3 linked regions of the Homo sapiens genome follow. The protein of the gene in region 3 binds, or shares a complex with, the protein of the main gene of each other region. Each region holds a gene or a part of one and is shown on either strand. Other genes may lie near its edges. A codon is read from its position in the direction of its gene.

Region 1 (2,646 bases), on a different chromosome or scaffold from region 3:
TCCACCTCCCCAGGTCCAAGGGCCATCTCATCGCAGATGGGAGTCTCATCACCACCTGTATGTACCGCAATCTCAAGAAGGGCTGTGGGAGCCGGGCCCGGGCAGAGGACCAACAGGCAAAGACCAGCTTTGGAGCAGGCAGGTTTCCTGGGCATCATCTGTTCCACAGCATTTACTTCTCAGGCCTCTCTCTTTAAATGGAGACAAGGTCTTCCCGTATTGCTCAGGGTGGTCTTGAACCCCTGGGCTCAAGTGATCCTCCCTCTTCAGCCTCCCAAAGCACTGGGATTGCAGGTGTGAGCCACCACACCCAGCCTCTGGGGCATGTCTTTTCCAACGCTTCATCACTTGCTACAATCTGAGATGAGAAAGGGCCTGGAAGGCTGTTTAAGACCCTCAGTGTGAACCCTGGGCTCCATGCTGCCTGTTCCCCTGACATCTGTCCTCAGCCCAAGAGTCCCAGAAGACAGTAGCAGGAGGACAAAGGCAATGACTCCAAATGGATAGGAAATACTTTTATTGCAAAAAGTACTGAAGGTACCCTAAAACCTTAAGCAGGATTCTGGACATGGAAGCCTACAGAATAGACAAAAATAAATATGTCAACCTGCCCGACCCTCTGGGGTGAACTGGATGTGGACACTGGAGGGAGGGCGTCCTTTATTACATACGCGTCTCTGAAGTCATATAAATATAGAATACCTTATAGTAGATCAGCATTAAATACCAGTCACTGTGTTTATATAACTTAATTTGTGCTGTAGACAAAGTTCTGTACATGTAACATGTGGCCATGCCCAGGCATCCCAGCATCTATCCTGAAGTCAGTGTAAAGACATCCTTAAGTGGTGGAGACATGACAGCCCAGAACCCACAGCAGAGGGAAACTGGGGAGAGGAGGGGGCCTGACCCTGGATCCCCCAGCTGGTGTCCACAGGCTAGAGGGACCCATTGCTGCAGAGGCTGGTGCCTGGTTTTCCCCATACTTGGTCTTCTAAACCCAAAGACAGGGTCCTGATGGTGGAGACCTGGGTAGGTCCGGAGGACAGACACAGGAGAGGGCACAATCCCAAGCGCAGCTCTCCTGCACTGGCTCGCACCACAGCCCTCATCTGAGTGGCCGACACAAGCCTGGAGTACGGCAGCTGCCAACCACAGCAAAGCCGCAAAAAAGACTGAGAAAACAGGAACCCAGAGTTCCACAGGGGCAAGGCCTCGCAGACCAGCCAAGCCCGAGATGCCCTGTGCTGGCAGTCATCACAGTCTGGACAGCATGTCCTTCCGTGGGTGCCCAGCTCAGTGCCTGGAACGGTCAGGGATTGAGGGCGTAGCCAACCTTGTATGGCCAAACCCAGCCCTTACGCCCCTGCTGACAAGGGAGACAAGCTGCCCCGCTGAACTCCAACAACCTCTGGGTGGGCTCAGCAGCCCCTAGGAAGTTAAGCGAGAGCTACAGGGCAGGGGGGCTCCCTGAGGGAGTTTGCACAGACCAGGAGGGGCCAAGGGGTAGCCCCAAGGGAGCAGAGGAAGGAGAAGGGCAGGAAAAGGTCCAGGGCACAGGGCAAGCAACAGTGCCAGAGGGTGCCTGGTCACAGGAAGCCCAGCTGCATGTTCCATGCTGCCCACAGGACTCCCAGCCAGGCCCCAGCAGGCCTGGACAGTGCTGGGCCCCCATCCTCGGCCTTCCCAGCACAGCAGGTGCTGGAAGATGACCATGACCCAAGCGAGAAGAGCCGCCATGAACTGTGGTCATACCAGCCAGGGCGTTCTAGGACAAGACTTCCTAACCCGACAGCAATGACATCCACAGTGTATGGACTGGGCTCTTGAGGAGCACGAGGGAGAGGCCAGGCAGCCCTGTCAGGGGTCCTGGGACATATTAAGGCAACCAGCCACGCCATCTGGCCAGCACAAGGGACTTAAGTGCAATCTGCTAAGTGACAGTGCTAAGACTGTCTTCCTGCTGAGAACATCTCTACGAGTTAGTTCACTAGAAAAGGCAATAAACATTTGCTTTAACCTTCTTTAACCAGGAAAATGCAGTCTAAATGCCCTCTTCTCTAAAAAGGAGGCAAGGACAAAAACTCAAGCCAAGGCTACTTTGGGTACTTTGAGGGGAAACTGACCATTTCCAAGAGAAACCCAGGGGCTGCCAAGCTGCGGCATTCACCCTCCTGCAGAAAGCTTTGGCAATGGGACTTCTTAGACTGGACAAATCAAACAAAGCTGACCCTGTAGAGCTCCTTCTTCTTCCCACTTCTTCTAAGGTCAAACTGCAAGCATTTTCAACTTTGGAACCAACCACCAAAGCCACCTCCTGCCCAGGACTTCCTTTAGAAGCAGTGGGACTCCTCACGCGCAGGCCCAGCAAGGGCTTGGGCACCCGCAGCTGTCTGCTTGGCTGGGTGTCAATGATCACCTCCCAGGGCCTCCCGGGAAGGAGAGGGTGAGAGGTGAGGACGCAAGAGCCAGTCAGGGGGTAGGAGCAGGGGGCTATGGCTGAGGAGGCCCAGCATCTGATAGGACCACATCCTCTTCACCCTCCAAGCCCACACCCCTGCTCATGTCCCACTGTTCTGGGTGCAGCCTCTGGAGGGCAGCCCTCTGAGGTGTTTTGATGTAAGCCCCTGGCAGGGGCCAGGAGCT
Region 2 (7,867 bases), on a different chromosome or scaffold from region 3:
TGAATTAGCACTACACTTTTGGCAAACTATCTGTCACTAAAACTAACCTTATTTACTCCAATTATTGTTTTCTCCTTTTCTTTTTTCTTTTTTTTTGAGACAGAGTCTCGATCTGTCGCCCATGCTGGAGTGCAGTGGCGCAACCTCAGCCCACTGTAACCTCTGCCTCTCGGTTCAAGTGGTTCTCCTGCCTCAGCCTCCCGAGTAGCTGGGAGTACAGGCACGCGCCACCATGCCCAGCTAATTTTTTTGTATTTTTAGTAGAGACGGGGTTTTGCCATGCTGGCCAGGCTGCTCTCAAACTCCTGACCTCAGGTGATTCACGCGCCTCGGCCTCCCAAAGTGCTGGGATTACAGGCGTGAGCCACCTTGCCCGGCCCCTACTCCAATTATTGTATGAGACAGAGACGACTGTATCTGCTACTTTACCTTCATGTTCTGAATTTGAGTTTACCATTTGGAAATCAAACCTGGTTAAATGGATGATGATGAAAAGAGCAAGTATAACACAGATATATTCAGAAAGATTAATTACCCCTCGCTCAAAGAATTGATTCCTACAGTAAAGCATTTTTTTGTTTGTTTGAGACAGAGTCTTCCTCTGTCATCCAAGCTAGAGTGCAGTGGCGTGATCTTGACTCACTGCAAGCTCCACCTCCCAGGTTCAAGCGATTCTTCTGCCTCAGCCTCCAGAGTAGCTGGGACTACAGGCACGCGCCACCACACCTGGCTTATTTTTTTTTTATTTTTTTTTTTTTGTGATGGAGTCTTGCTCTTTCACCCAGGCTGGACTGCAGTGGCGCTAACTAGGCTCACTGCAAGCTCCTCCTCCCAGGCTCACGCCATTCTCCTGCCTCAGACTGCCTAGTAGCTGGGACTACAGGTGCTCGCCACCGCGCCTGGCTCATTTTTTGTATTTTTAGTAGAGACAGAGTTTCATCATGTTAGCCAGGATGGTCTCGATCTCCTGACCTCGTGATCCGCCTGCCTCGGCCTCCCAAAGTGCTGGGATTACAGACGTGAGCCACCGCGCCCACCTTTTTGTATTTTTAGTAGAGACCGGGCATCACCATATTGGCCCGGTTGGTTTTGAACGAGATCCACCTGCCTGGGCCTCCCAAAGTGTTGGGATTACAGGCATGAGCCACCGCGCCTGGCCCATAATTTTTAACAAAGTCTTAAGGAACAGTAAAGCAAAGGGATCAACCACCTTAACTGTGCTAAAGTTCATCAACTGGGAATCAAGTGCTCCAGTGCTGAATAGACAACCATTGCCTCAAAGAACCCAATGGACAAGAGCAATTTAAACTCTAATTTCATATACAAAACAGGAATGCTTGAGTAGAAAGGCAAGGGAGTGACCACTAAGCCCTGTTATTTAAAAAGAAAAACCAAACAGTAAAACATACACCCACACTTATAAAAGGAAAATCACAGCTAACAAACGCCTATTTCTATCCTGGGGATGACTGTCATTTCCTGGGAGGTCAATTCTCTGAGTAGAGGGCTTGGTCAAATGAGCAATGGAAACAGTTGGAAGTTGTGGGGAGGCACAGGAGGGTTGGCATCTCAAACCCTCATTTCCACCCACAAGGCTGCCTTAGCAGTAACTCCAGATTCTCACTTCCTGATCACGGTCATGCCATGCTGAGAATGGTCTCAGTCAGGCTTCTCAAACTTGAAGAGGGATCCGAACCTTTCTGGGAAGCCTCCTGCATGGCAAATGTTGGCTGCCAAGGCACAAAGCCAAGCGCAGTCATGTAAGCTCAACTGAAAGACCCCGCAAAGTTAGTATAAGGCTTGTGAACTGCCTTGAATAAATATAGGTAACAACTTCTTCAAACAGGCTTTTTTGTGAGTTTCAATCCTGCACAACTCCCAAGACACGGTTCCTCGGCTCCACAACTCTTGATAAATAAAGGTAGCAAAAGGTTTCTATTACCATCTACCCAACAGCATGAGCATTTCGCTTGATGAAAGACAAGCTGCAAACTAACCTGGAAATTCCTGTCCTTTTGCGAAGACAGTGGGAAAACTAAGCCAATTAGAAAGCAGATTGAAAGATTCCTTACCTGACCCTTCCTGGACATCCCTAAAGCAACCCTTAATATGAGCAAAATCCCCTTCGAAAAATCATACTATATACTACGGACGCATCTTCTAAGAGGTGCTGAGTGGGTGCTGCGTGCTGTGGATGGAAAGGATGGAGCGCCAACTCTCTAAATGCAAGTCACCAGGGAAAAAAAGGGCCGCCCATATCAACCCCCACGTCAGCGTTAATTCAAACGTCCAGAATGTGAAACAACGCCAAGGGTTCTGTTTCCAGAGCCAGCAAGTACCCTGGGACAGAGAAGAGAAGGCGTTCACACACCCTGGGCAAAAGAACCTAGTGAGAAAAAGAAAGTAGAATCACAGCAAAGTCCGGGGTCTAGGAAGCCTCCTCCACCAAAGAGCAAAGAGGGCGAGGAAGAGACACCCCCAAGGTGAATCGACTCAGGATCCTCAAAGGCAGTGGACGCCAGGGCGCCATCCTCACCCTCCCCTCCCAGGGTAGGGGATCGGGGCAAGCTGGGGAGGAGCTGGCGACAAGGGAGCGCGGGGCTCGAAGCCCGAGGAGAGTCGCCCGCTCCCGCTGAAGTCTCCTCCGCACGAAGCAGGGCGTGTGCAGGAGCCGCAGGCCGGGAAGGCCAGGACCCTCCGGGCTGGCCCGTGAGGCCCTCACCTTGTCTGAGTCCAGGTCGGGATCGGCCTGGCATAAGCGGTACAGGAAGGATTTCGGGTCCCGGCACAGGGTCTGCCGAGTGGTGAGGAAGTAGGTGCCGCCGACGTTGAGTCGGACCCACTTGGACACGCTGCCAGGGCGCTGGGCCAGGGCGCCGAGCCCAGCGCTGCAGCGGCGGCACAGGCCGCCCCCCAGCCCCGCCCCGATGCCGCCCCGGGCCGGCGACAGGAGCTCGCAGTGATTCTCCGCCATGATCCCAGCAAGCCCCGCAACAGCTCCCTTCCACCGGAAGCGTCCGGCTTTTAATAGCGTCCTCTGAGTTCTGTCCCGCCCACAGGTCCGCCCTGGTAGAGCGCCCGCCCCGGCGTCACGCGGTAGGCGGAAGTTCCGGTCCCGAAAAGCAGGAGGCTGGGCCCGCTTCCGGCGGGAGCGGAGCACGGGGTGATCTGGGCACTAACGCTGATGGGGAGCAGCGGACATCAGCCTCGACCTCCCACGAGCGGTGCACGAGCGCCTGACCCAGACCTCGACCCTAGCCTTCACCCCCACCCTGACTCCAGTTCATGAACTGGTCAAAGGAAGAGCCATGCCAGCAAACGTCTACACTGTACATGCTTTTTATTACAAGACTACGGAGCATAGGAGGAAAATTCATCATCTGGTAACTACACCTAAAGCACAAATATTTGGGGGGAAAAAAAGAACAGATTCATTAAATTATATGATTAAATCATTGACCCAATAGAAAATTTATATAATAAGGGCGGGGCCTGGTGGCTCACGCCTGTAATCCCAGCACTTTGGGAGGCCGAGGCGGGAGGATCAGGCGGTCAGGAGATCGAGACCACGCTGGCCAACATGGTGAGGCCCGGTCTCCACTGAAAATACAAAAATTAGCCTGGCGCGGTGGTGGGCGCCGGTAATCCAAGCTACTCGGGAGGCTGCGGCAGGAGAATGGCGTGAACCCGGGAGGCAGAGGTTGCAGTGAGCTGAGATCTCGCCACTGCACTCCAGCCTGGTGATAGGGCGAGAGTCTGTCTCAAAAAAAAAAAAAGAAAGTTTTTGTAATAAAGCCAGAAAAAAGTTGTAAAATATATAGTAATTATTCACATTCAAGGCTGTATATCAATACATATAACAACGTGGCCCCGAACATGAATTCAATACAAATAATTCATATATTAGAATTTAGGCCGGGCGCGGTGGCTCATGTCTGTAATCCCAACACTTTGGGAGGCCAAGGTGGGTGGATCACGAGGTCAGGAGTTCAACATCAGCCTGGCCAAGATGGTGAATCTCCGTCTCTACCAAAAATACAAAAAATTAGCCAGATGTGGTTGTGGGCGCTCGTAATCCCAGCTACTCGGAGGCTGAGGCAGAGAATTGCTTAAACCCAGGAGGCGGAGGTTGCAGTTAGCCGAGATCAGGCCACTGCACTCTAGCCTGGGCGACAGAGTGAGACTCCGTCTCAAGAAAAAAAAAGAATTTAAATAACAGGCTGAACTAGAGGCCAACAATAGCCAGCAAATAACCTTCTATAAGATTAAAAACACAAAAGTGTATATCCTAATACCATTGTATTATTTGTTTTCATGAGTTCTTTTAATTTTTGCTTTGTCTGTACATCACAGTTACAGCTACAGACCAGGTAGAGAATATTACGCATGTTCTGACTGCCACCCACCTGAAAGACGTACTAGTCATTTATCCTATTTCATGTTGTGAAGGAACAGCTACAGCAGCTCTAAATACTGTAACAATTTAATTTTGCCAACATCCAACTTAACAGTCGTAATAGAGGCTTTTACCAGCACAATGACCCCTATTCGTAGTCATTCTGCCAGACGGTTAGGCTATGTGGGTTACACAGCTTAAAAAAGGTCTGCCTTTTGTAAAAAGTTCTCTGTACATAGTTTGGTGTTTCTTCATATGGAAGAAATGAGTTATGGGGAAAATTCAGGTACACACGTAGGCTCGTTCAGTTGCTCACCACAGCCATCTCAACAGATGAAAGTGCTCTTTGTTGGAAACAGCTTCCTCCTCACACCAGTTCTCCACAGGCAGCCTCATCTACAACCCTGCAATTTTGGGCCAGAAGTGGTGGCCCCTCAGAGGCTCTGAAGTGCCTCCAGCCCCGATTCAGGCACTTGCCACGTGTGCTGCGTAAGAAGGGACCCCACCCAGTGAGTCAACATAGGCTCATGTCAAGTTTGAAAATAACTGGGGAAAAGTGTATGACAACATCTTCCAGAACATAGTACCTTCACCGTATTCTCACAGCAGCTGCGATCTCTGAAGTCTCAGCAGTGAGCACCCCGGGTCTGTCAACCAGCCAGGCAAGGGGGGGCCCTCAGGCTTCAGAGGGCAAGAAACCAAATTCCGTGCAATTTGGCCATAATCTCTGGTAGAGTGAAGCAGCACTGAACGCAGTGCCTAGAAAAACCTCCTGCACGTTCCCCTGCACAATCAATGGACCCCAACTACAGTGGAGAAATGAAGAATCCAACCAAATTTGGGTGGTCTGGACTTGCTGCCAGCCAGGCAATCTGCAACACTGTGGGCAGGGAGATGGGGGGAGGCGGCCTGAAATCTACACCAGCTGGGACAACCACGCCCTACAATGAAAAAGCCAGCCTGGCTGCTGGGCTCTTGTGAACCACTAAGACCTGAAGGTGGGGGGGTGGAAGGGGGAGACAAATGCACTCTTGTAAAACCCAATCAGCTACGTGGTTTTTTTCAAGTAGAGGCTTTGCTCTGCTACTGACTCCAAATGGCCTAATGTACTTTCTGAGTCTATAAACTTAATTACAGATCACTCACTAAGCATGTGGCAAGGTCAGTTCAACACTTGTTATCTCTGCTGACTGCGCAGTTGCAAATTCAATACCATTGTGGACATGAAGTACAAGATTCTGAAAATATCGCCAAGCGCTTGAAAGCCACGGCAGCAGGGAGGGCAGAGAGCTGACATGCAGGCAGAGCCAGGTTCTTGCAACCAAAACAAGGAAATTGGCTCTTGGAAAAAATCGGCCACAAATGGATTGCAGTAGTGACATCCTCTTAGCATTTAAATAAAGAGCGGTCTTATTCAGACATTCTTTGGAACACACGGCTTATCAGAAACCGATTTGTTCAGAATCTGTAAGACACAACTAAGGTGGTTCTGCTACTGGAACTGAGCGTCTACACATCAGGTCGAGAGAGAGACAGAAATATCTTCAAAATGAACAAACTCTTTCACCTCAAAATACCACTTCCAGGCATCTAAGGGGAAAAAAAGTAAGAAATCAGAAGATTTTAAAGATATTCATCACAGCATTATTTAAATAGTGGAAAAATCAGAAACCGTCAAGTATTTTACAGTAGGGAAATGGTCAGATAAATTATAGTAAATGGACAATGACTAAATAGTACAATTGTTAAAAACATGTTTCTGAGAAACTCATGACATGGGAAAATGCTTAAAATATCAAGGGAGAAGACGATGCAAACGGTGTGTGTCGGATGTTCCTATTTTAGTTTAAAAAGTGAACAAATGGCAGGGCAGGATATACGGCAAAATGCTCACAGTGGTCTTCTCTGGCCGGTGAGCCTACAGCTGATCTTGTCAGAGACAAACGTTAGTTTTACTGAGTCACCCAGAGCCCTGTGCTGGTGCCTGAGGGTTTGTTCCATGGGACAGTCTCCACAATTCCTCTGGGGAAGGGCCACAAATCCCACAGTGTGTCCCAAGAGGGCTGGAGTAGGCGGAGTCCCCAGCAGCTGTGGCATGACCAGCCATCTCTCTCAAAACAATTGTTAACAAGCCTTCTGCAAGTTAAGGTTCCACATGGTAGCCGTGGTACAGAGGCATTTCTCTAGGGTGGAGAGGCTTGTGCTCTACACCAGGACTGCCCACCGCCCTGGCTGGGGCCACACAAAGAGGGGAGAAAGGAATCCCTCAGAAGCCAGCCCCCAACTGTGTCCCAGAGAAAGGCGGGGCACCTGGGACACCTAGGCCGGCAGCGACCACAGCCTCCCTCCACTTTGTGCCGAGAAGCCGCACAGTGTGGTCCCGACATTCCACCTGTCCTTGCCCATGTGTGGGGAGGCACATGGCCCCAAGTCTATTAAACAGCAAGTGAAATCTTCCTCATCTTGGATAAACCCACAACTGTAATTCCACGTAAGTGTGTCTATGTGCACACACAGTACCCCACGTTCTACCGTAGAATGTAAGGCGCCTGCGTGCCAGGTGATGGCTCTAAGGATGTGGTAGAGAAAACCGGAGTAGACATGAGCAAGCACAGGGTAAGGAAAGAAAACACACGGGCCTTTCAAAAGGGAAGAGCAAGGTGAGGAGAAAGGTGACCCACAGAAGGGCTTGGCTGTCAGCTCAGGCAATGGCATCATTTCGGCTGGCGGCTGCCAGCTCTGGCTCTGAGCCCCTAGTTCTGTGGCTTTGGAGGTTAAGATGGAGCTTGTCAGTGACGCCCAGGAGGTGGTGGTTCTATCCAGAGGAAGAACGCACGGAAGAGTCTCCCCAGGCAGCCCAGCCGAGTGCTCCAATTAAAGCCACGTCCCTGCTCCACTTGTTTCCCTATAACCAGACGCCCTGAGAGATACGTTCTGAGATGGGTAAAATAGCTGATGAGGAGGAGGAAGCCTGAACAGAAATTCCTGAAAGGGCTAAGAGAGACTCCCCAACACAGCCAAGCCTTTCCAAAAGCCAGGAGGAGGAGAGAGGACTCCGACTCCGGCCACAGGCCCAGGGCAACGTGCTGGGCCCCGGAGCGTCCTGCTCCCTGGGGCCCCAGGGTAGGTGCGGCCCAGCTCACCCCAGCTCACGGTCACAGGCTCACATGCAGCTCTCACACAGCAGCAGCCAAGGCCCAGGCAGGAACCACAGGCAGGGCCTGGGGAACATCTCTGCCCCCTCCCAGGCCCCGTCTGTACTCGCTTAGCTAAAAAGAGCCACTCTCGTCATTAGCAGTGTAAAAACGACACCTTCCCTCTCAGTTTGGATCTGGCCTGGCACACAGGGTCACTGCTGAGTCACCTGTGACTTGGGGGTAGGGACCAGGGAGGGTGGACACAGTTGAGTCAGAGGCAGGTCTGTGGGCAGCAATGTCTGCCTCTCCCCCACGGGAGCTGGAGAGCAGTGGC
Region 3 (7,252 bases):
CACTAGGTATTAACTACTTTTGACTAGCAACTCACGCAGTCTGTAGTTATGAACAAGACTGCCAATCTGGAAGACAGGAATTTTGAAGGTCTATAAGCACACGGTTAGTAAGATAAATCTATGAAACACCCTAACACTGAGATATACATCTATCTGTAACAAAGGGCCATAAACTGTAATAGTTCTTTCCAATGGGAATCACTTAGGAATGTTATTAATACTTATTAAACAGTAATGAAAAATTCTTTTAGAAATCAGCAGCTATTAACTACTGAATACCAAAACTAGTCACTTACTTCATGTAAGGTTTTCAGAAAAACCTGCAAAAGTTATAGACAGAATGGATCCAAATTAGCTCATAATCATAACGAAGCTAACAAAAAAAAATTCAGTTCCAGTACTATGTGGTAACGTATCACACAACGTTATTATACTGGTCAGCTAAAGGAATAATGAAATTCTCTCCCACCTCTTCTCCCCAACAATATTAGCTCCAAAAGGCAGGGATCTTGGTCTTTCTAGCTATACTGACAGACCCCCAGAACAGTGCCTGGCACATAATATTCAGTATTTGCTGAACAAATTAAATGATGGCAAAACAGGTAAGAGCAGGGAAACCTGAAGAGGTCAAAGAGTTTAATTACACATACATTAACGTACAACTGGTCAATCAGAAGGCCATTAACTTGAGTGAGTTGATGTCAAATTTGAGTTACTCCACATTTTAGCAAAAAATCTTATTTAGAACATGAGACTTCAAGAATTGAGTAGTGTAAGGCTGCACACACTGCTAGAAAATCTGTTGTATATAGGCCTGGCGCGGTGGCTCACTCCTGTAATCCCAGCACTTTGGGAGGCCGAGGTCGGTGATCACCTGAGGTCGGGAGTTCGAGACCAGCCTGACCAACATGGAGAAACCTCGTCTCTACTAAAAATACGAAATTAGCCCGGTGTGGTGGCGCATGCCTGTAATCCCAGCTACTCAGGAGGCTTTTAACCCAGGAGGCGGAGGTTGCGGTTAGCTGAGATCACGCCATTGTACTCCAGCCTGGGCAACAGGAGCGAAACTCTTGTCTCAAAAAAAAAGAAAATCTGTTGTATACAACTATTAACTTCATAAAATTCTAAGTAATTCTAAACTCTAAAGTGGTCAGAATTTAGTAGGAAAATTAATATCACTCACAAATGCATAACCCAGCTCTGCCCAATTATAAGGGAAAACATACTAGTAAGCTTCGTTAGTACTCGCTTGTCAACATTTCTCACGTTTACTTAGAAAAAAGTTTGAAACATTCAAAAAATCTTTAATTATTATCAAAACACTTATTCTCCTAAATTCCATCGTACCTATTTACACAAAGCAGAGGTTTTCGCACACTGACTTTAGTATTTATGTTCTTACAATTTCAGAATTCTGCATGAGGTGTATCCTTTTAAATTTTAGGAATTCAGAGAGGTCCTCATGTTCTCTGAAACTAAATCACTTGACTCAACTGGGGCAATCACATCAAGGTAAGTCTTTCCTCACTGCAACTGCGCTTCAGGAAAAGCATGCTTTAAAAAGTGACAACAAATCCCCCTCTTTCGCTGGTACATCATATGAAGTATTTATGAATCTAAGAAGGGAAGACCAAGATCTTTCTCTAATTTTACTTTTTAAAATCTTCTGTCCGATTGCTAGTTCGTCTGTCTTGACGTATGCCTTTTATTGTAGCGACATAGGCAAGTATGCCCAGTTCGTTAACAGTACATTTTAATTGCTTGCCACGGGGAAGCTGAACCAGATTTGACACCCAAAGTTATATCCTATATACTAAACATCGCAAGGGTACGACTCAACGTAATGCCAAAAAAGAAAAAGTTTCTGAGCAGAACACGTTTGCTGTCACTGAAAGCGATGAAACAAAGCTACTCCGCAAGGCGACTACACTCATTCTTTGGGCTCCCAAGGCTGAGAAATGGAGAACCAATTGGCCGGTTTGCTCTCTGTTGCTTCCCCCCCACCCGGCCTTCCTCCGAGTGGCGAGGCAATCCTGCACAAGAGTTTGTAAAGTGCTTAGGAAGCTTGTAGGATGAAAGACGCTATAAATACACCCAATGTTACTAGTTTATGACCACGGAGCATTCCGTGGAACCACTGTCACTGCGTCGGGGGCAGGTTGATGGCATAGACCTTCCTGGGGAGGGGGGCAGAGAGAGAGGGCAGCCCCTTCATCACCCTAAAAGCTAGGCTGGGTAAATTTTCAAAGTGTAGCGAAACCCCACGTGAAAAGTTCCACACACGCCCCACACAGGGAGGACTCCGCGGCTGCTAGCAGCGCCGGAGACTGGGCCTACAACCCCGGCAACGTGGGGAGGCGTGGGGCGGCCGAGGGGCCCCGGCCGCAGCCGACGCCCGCGGAGCGGCTGAAGGAGCAGCTCCCGGACGGGGGCGCGGCGCCAGGCCCGGGCTCCCGGCGCGGGGAACGGCCCGGGAGGGCGGCCGCGCCGGGGCCCCGCGCCGCCCGGTTGCCGGGAAGGCTCGCGCCCCGCGGCCGGCGGGCGTGGGGGAGGGGAGGCCGGGCCTGCGGCCTGTTGGGGGACTTCAGCCCGGGCCTCGCGTGCGGCTCTCGGCCCGGCCCCCGGCCCCGGGGTCCCGGACGCCGAGGAGAGACTCACCGGAAAGGCCCGGATCCGCATCTTGGTGTCCTTCCGGCTGCCCGTGCCTTTGCTCAGATTCGACATGGTGCTCGTCCCCTCCCCGGCGGCGGCTTCAGGTCGCGCTCCGCGACGCCGGTGTCACATTTAAGGCGGGCAGGCAGGCTAGGGGCGACGCTGGGGGCGGCGGCGGCGCGACCCCCGGGCAGGGCTGGGGAGCTGGCCGGCCCCTGGGCAGCCGCGGCGGCGGCGGGGGCGGCGGCGGCGGCGGCGGCGGCTCGGACTCTGGCGACTCCGATGCGGCTGGGGGGCTGCGCTGGCGCGGCGGCTCCGCGGGGTCCCCCTCACGTCCGGCTCGGCTCCCTTTATCGCGCTCCTCCGCGATGGCGGCGGCGGCGGCGACGGACAAACATCTCACTGCGCAGGCCGAACGTCGTCCTCCTCCTCCTCCTTCTCCTCCTCCGCCTGAGCGAGACGAGATCCGGCCCAGAGGGTGGAGGGGGGAGGAGGGAGGGAGGAGAGCCGGAGAGTGAGAGATGCCGGGGGAGGGAGGTGGGAGGACGGGAGGGGGAGCCCGGCGGCCGCCGCGGGGGACGCTCAGATCTCGCGAGAAGAGGGCGAGCGCGCTGCCCCCCTGGTGGGCGGGGCGAAGCCCGGGAGAGGGTGGGCGCCACCGGAGGGGAGGAGGGGAACAGGGAACTGAAGGAAGTGGGAGGGGCCGGCGGGGCGGGGAAGCGGAAAGGGGGCGTGGCTGAGGGCGGGAGGATTAAGCTGCCTTTTTGAAAGTGGAGCGCCAGGTCCCGGGTTCTGGGTGGAGGTGGTTGCTGATTGGTGGAGCTCGGAGCGGCGGTTGGGAGGGTCCTGGTCACATGGTGGGGAGTGGGAGGGGGGAAGTTCGGAGAGCGGGAGCGGGATGGTAGTGGGCTGGGCCCCACTGGGCTGGGACAGCAGGAGGATAGTCTTGAGGAGGAGCGTGGGGTGCTAGATGTGTAACTACGTCCCGAACTGGTTCCTGTGTTTTTCTAGGGCATGTGGACTAGGGATGGGTACTTGAGTAGAAGCCTGCAACTTGAAGAGTTTGTGCAGGAGTTAGCTGCAGTGTCGGAAATTAGTGTCCTGTATGCTCAACAAGGTATTCGGACTGGGTGTGCACACCACAGCTCTCAGGACTGGAAGGTGGAAATTTAATCTACGAAGTTCCCTTAAACTGCATAAGCTTCGGGACCTCTTGATTCACTGATATTTTCTGGTGGACCCAGGGCTTATTCATGTTAAAACCTGTTTTTCATTACCATCAGAATAAACTGACAGCTCCATTAATGAAATGCAGCATTTGGTAAATAATGTTAAGTGGAATGATAGAAACCTATCTTTAACCTACCGGATAAATCATTTCTACCATTACCAAGAGTATTGTAGATTTTTAAAGCCAAAATTACCGTCTGATTCAGTTGCTGTATATTTGAAAAGGTTTTGGCTTTTGGTTTTGGAGGAGAGGCGTTTGGTCGCTTTATAGTCAAAATGTCTAATTTGACTTATCGGTTTTGCTGTCCATTTGTTATGAATTGTACTTCCTCATTTACCTACTTGCCCAATTGCTGTTATGTTTGGGTTTCTGACTCTGCAAGGGAATACGTGAGTTCTTATTAAAGTTTGTGTTCTTCCTATTTTAAAGAAGCATATGTTTGGGGGATGGATATCTACATTTAGAAGCTGGAATTTTAATACTTTTAAATAGCAAACAATATAAAGTGAAATACACTTATTTGTTGACTGTAAGGTTGAATTTGCCCTAAATTAACTTAATCCTGATGACTAAGCTTATGAGTGTTGTGCTTAAAGCCCCTTCTTGCTTAAAACGCCCCACTGCAAATACCATATTTTCTTGTTTTTTTTTTTTTTTTGTGGGAGTTTTTTGGTATTGGCTAATTAAAGCAGGAGCTTAAGAAACAAGAATGTTGCTTAAGACAATATCTGTAAATACTGAAGCTAAAAATAGGTTATCAAGAACTGAGTTGATAAACTAAGATTGGGAGAGGCTCTGACTTCAATGTAAGATAATGTCAGCCTTGAATAGGAGTTTATAATCTCTATGCTAATTGAACCTCCATTTCCATAACATAATATAATAACAAACAATGTTTTTCTCTTGGTTGTACTCTCATATGGCCCAGTTTCTTTGTAATGTAAGAATATATGTTCAGAATAGGGATCTCTGAGGAACCAAAAAAAGAAATAAAAAAATATTTTAAAAAAGAATATGTGTTCTTGGAGCCATTGTTTGAATCTCAATTCTGCCACTTTACTAGCTGTGTTTTGCATCTTTTGGGGCATGGAGTTGACAATCCCCAGAATTTCTCATCTGTAAAAGGGAGACAATAACAATACTTCCTCCTTGGGCTACCGTGAAATTTAAATAGATGAATACGTTTTAAAGAGCCCTGAGAACTGGGCATGGAGCAGCAACTTACCACCTGTTGGCTGTTATTAACATGGGCATTAAAGCCAAGGTTATACTACTTCCTTTATTCAATAGGTAGGTTTCTAAACAACAACAACAAAAAACACTTGTATGCTTTTATAAAATGAGTCATATTTTGAAACTAAGCCAGTCTCCGACATTTGGATCTCTCAGACTAATAAAATATTTTCTGATAAGCTAGGGAGTCATTATAGATTTGGCAACTTTATATTGGCAAGGGTATTAAAAAGGAACAACTAGCATAGATTATTCCCATCATTTATTAAAAAGTATTTTAACCTCAGAAATGAGGGAAGATCCATTTTTGAATAAAGGACAGTTCCTTGAATTGAACAGCCTCGTAATGAACAATACGTCACACGAATTTTTCTTATTTCACTGTGAACCTAAGGAGACATCATGGGCCAGCATTTAGAAACCCACTACATTAAGGTATGTTTCTACTTAATTGTAAAGCATATAGTAAGTATAGTAACTGTAATGTATTTGCTTTGTGAACCCAGATTTTCGTATATTGGTGTTGCTTAACCAAAATTTAGCTGCGTCTAAAAGCATCACTGTGAACTGTGTCTTCCCTTAAGCTTTTAACCACCAAGGATCAGAAAAATGCTTCAAAATGATTTTGTCATTAAGAAGTCTGCTCATTTATTTGTTCAGTTATTCATTTATTCAATAATTATTATTGAATGGCTACTGTATGTCAGGAACTAGGGTGAATGAGACAGATGGGACCTGCCATCACATCCTTTTTCACATCTCACAGTTTGTAAACCACAGACCCATATTGGATTTGGCCCCAACTTTGTATATGCTTCAGTTCTGAAATCAGATATTTTCCTTCCTGTGGAAGCAACATCCTCAGAATGTCTATGAAATACTTTCTGAAGCAGCAGTAGATTATTTTTCTGTGCCCAGTCATATTCCCTGACTTGCAAATAGCAAATAAACTTTCAGGATGTTGCTTTTCTGCAAACTGCCACCTGATCTAGCAGAGAAAGCAGCACTGGAATAGGAACTCACTAGATCTTGCATGGCTGGCGATTGGTATTCCTACTCATGCTGACAGTGTCCTGACACAGGAAAACAGTGGCCTCATTTCCATTTATTCTTTCCATTTATGCATATGGAGCACATGCATTCAGAGAGATCAGGCAGTTGGGTGGGCCAGCCCCTTTTCTACATCCCAGTCTGTGAAAGAGCAATATAAGATGTGAGGAGCTGGTAAAAGGAAGTAATAGCCTCTTCTTGACCATCAGTTTCTAGGTACTCGGGATACCAAGTCACTTTAATCAATGTTTCAGATCTGCTGATTTTATTGTACAGATATTGGTTGTTAAAACAGCTCAAAGCCTACAATTTCAATTTGAAAGACCCGTTCAATGGTTTTGAGTAGACCAAGACTATGTTAAGAGAGAGAAAATGTTTTTAAGTTGGAAGGCAAAGATGTATAGATATTATCAGCTCTTGGAATGGAAGGGCTAGATCTTCTACTTTCTTGTCTCTACCAGGCAACTAATAAGTATTATAGGCCATTAGATATGGAGTTGTATATATTTAGGGTAGTAGCATGTGTATGTGCATTATAAGATGACATTGTCGGCAAATACCCCATTGAGAACATAACCACAGATGCTTAAATATGTGAAAACTGTAGGCCTTCTCCATGCAACTTTTCTACTGTGTCCTTAAAATTTTTCTTATATTATTGAGACAAGAAGCATATGAGACACATAAGCATATGAGACGTTACATCTTAAACTAAAAAATGTTAAATGTCTGATTATATCATAAAAATCCATCTCAGTATTTCATCATATGGTCATACAAAAGAAAATCATCTCCCTGGCAGCTCTGGAAATGTTCTGGTTGGCTTGGACAGTCTGTTTATTCCACATGTACCCAATAAATTAACATTTTGTAAATAAAAATATCTATACAACCAACTAACCCAATTGAACATAATATAGATTCTCAATTTAAAAATATAGGCATGGCTTCTATGTAATCTTATTTCAAAGAAAAAGAATTTCTTCTTATTAATACCATTGTAACAGTAAATGTATCAAGAAACCTCTAGGGGACAGTTATGAGTATGTATTGCTTTCATTCATGACAAGTAAAATATATGTTGAA

What was found.
Region 1: CUL3 (region 3) and KLHL21 share a complex: the UniProt entries of both Homo sapiens proteins name them as parts of the BCR(KLHL21) E3 ubiquitin ligase complex.
Region 2: the proteins of CUL3 (region 3) and KCTD5 are in contact, whole or in part, in a cryo-EM structure (PDB 8U83), measured with the Homo sapiens proteins. Residues at the interface, in NP_003581.1 of Homo sapiens: Thr24, Met25, Asp26, Glu27, Lys28, Tyr29, Val30, Asn31, Ser32, Ile33, Trp34, Asp35, Leu36, Leu37, Asn39, Ala40, Glu43, Asn48, Ser50, Leu52, Ser53, Glu55, Glu56, Leu57, Arg59, Asn60, Ala61, Tyr62, Thr63, Met64; in NP_061865.1 of Homo sapiens: Trp45 (codon at 2,842), Phe55 (codon at 2,812), Leu56 (codon at 2,809), Thr58 (codon at 2,803), Thr61 (codon at 2,794), Arg64 (codon at 2,785), Asp65 (codon at 2,782), Lys67 (codon at 2,776), Ser68 (codon at 2,773), Pro96, Thr97, Tyr98, Phe99, Gly100, Pro101, Leu103, Asn104, Tyr105, Leu106, Arg107, His108, Gly109, Lys110, Leu111, Val112, Ile113, Asn114, Lys115, Leu117, Val122.

What each region holds. Positions count from the first base shown.
Region 1 is NC_000001.11:6,590,224-6,592,869, forward strand, and holds the end of KLHL21 (kelch-like protein 21), read right to left. Parts: 3' UTR 501-2,646; downstream 1-500. UniProt on the Homo sapiens protein: Substrate-specific adapter of a BCR (BTB-CUL3-RBX1) E3 ubiquitin-protein ligase complex required for efficient chromosome alignment and cytokinesis.
Region 2 is NC_000016.10:2,677,656-2,685,522, reverse strand, and holds the start of KCTD5 (BTB/POZ domain-containing protein KCTD5), read right to left. Parts: upstream 3,001-7,867; 5' UTR 2,975-3,000; coding exon 2,723-2,974; intron 1-2,722. UniProt on the Homo sapiens protein: Its interaction with CUL3 suggests that it may act as a substrate adapter in some E3 ligase complex. Does not affect the function of Kv channel Kv2.1/KCNB1, Kv1.2/KCNA2, Kv4.2/KCND2 and Kv3.4/KCNC4.
Region 3 is NC_000002.12:224,582,286-224,589,537, forward strand, and holds the start of CUL3 (cullin-3), read right to left. Parts: upstream 3,079-7,252; 5' UTR 2,725-3,078; coding exon 2,659-2,724; intron 1-2,658. UniProt on the Homo sapiens protein: Core component of multiple cullin-RING-based BCR (BTB-CUL3-RBX1) E3 ubiquitin-protein ligase complexes which mediate the ubiquitination and subsequent proteasomal degradation of target proteins.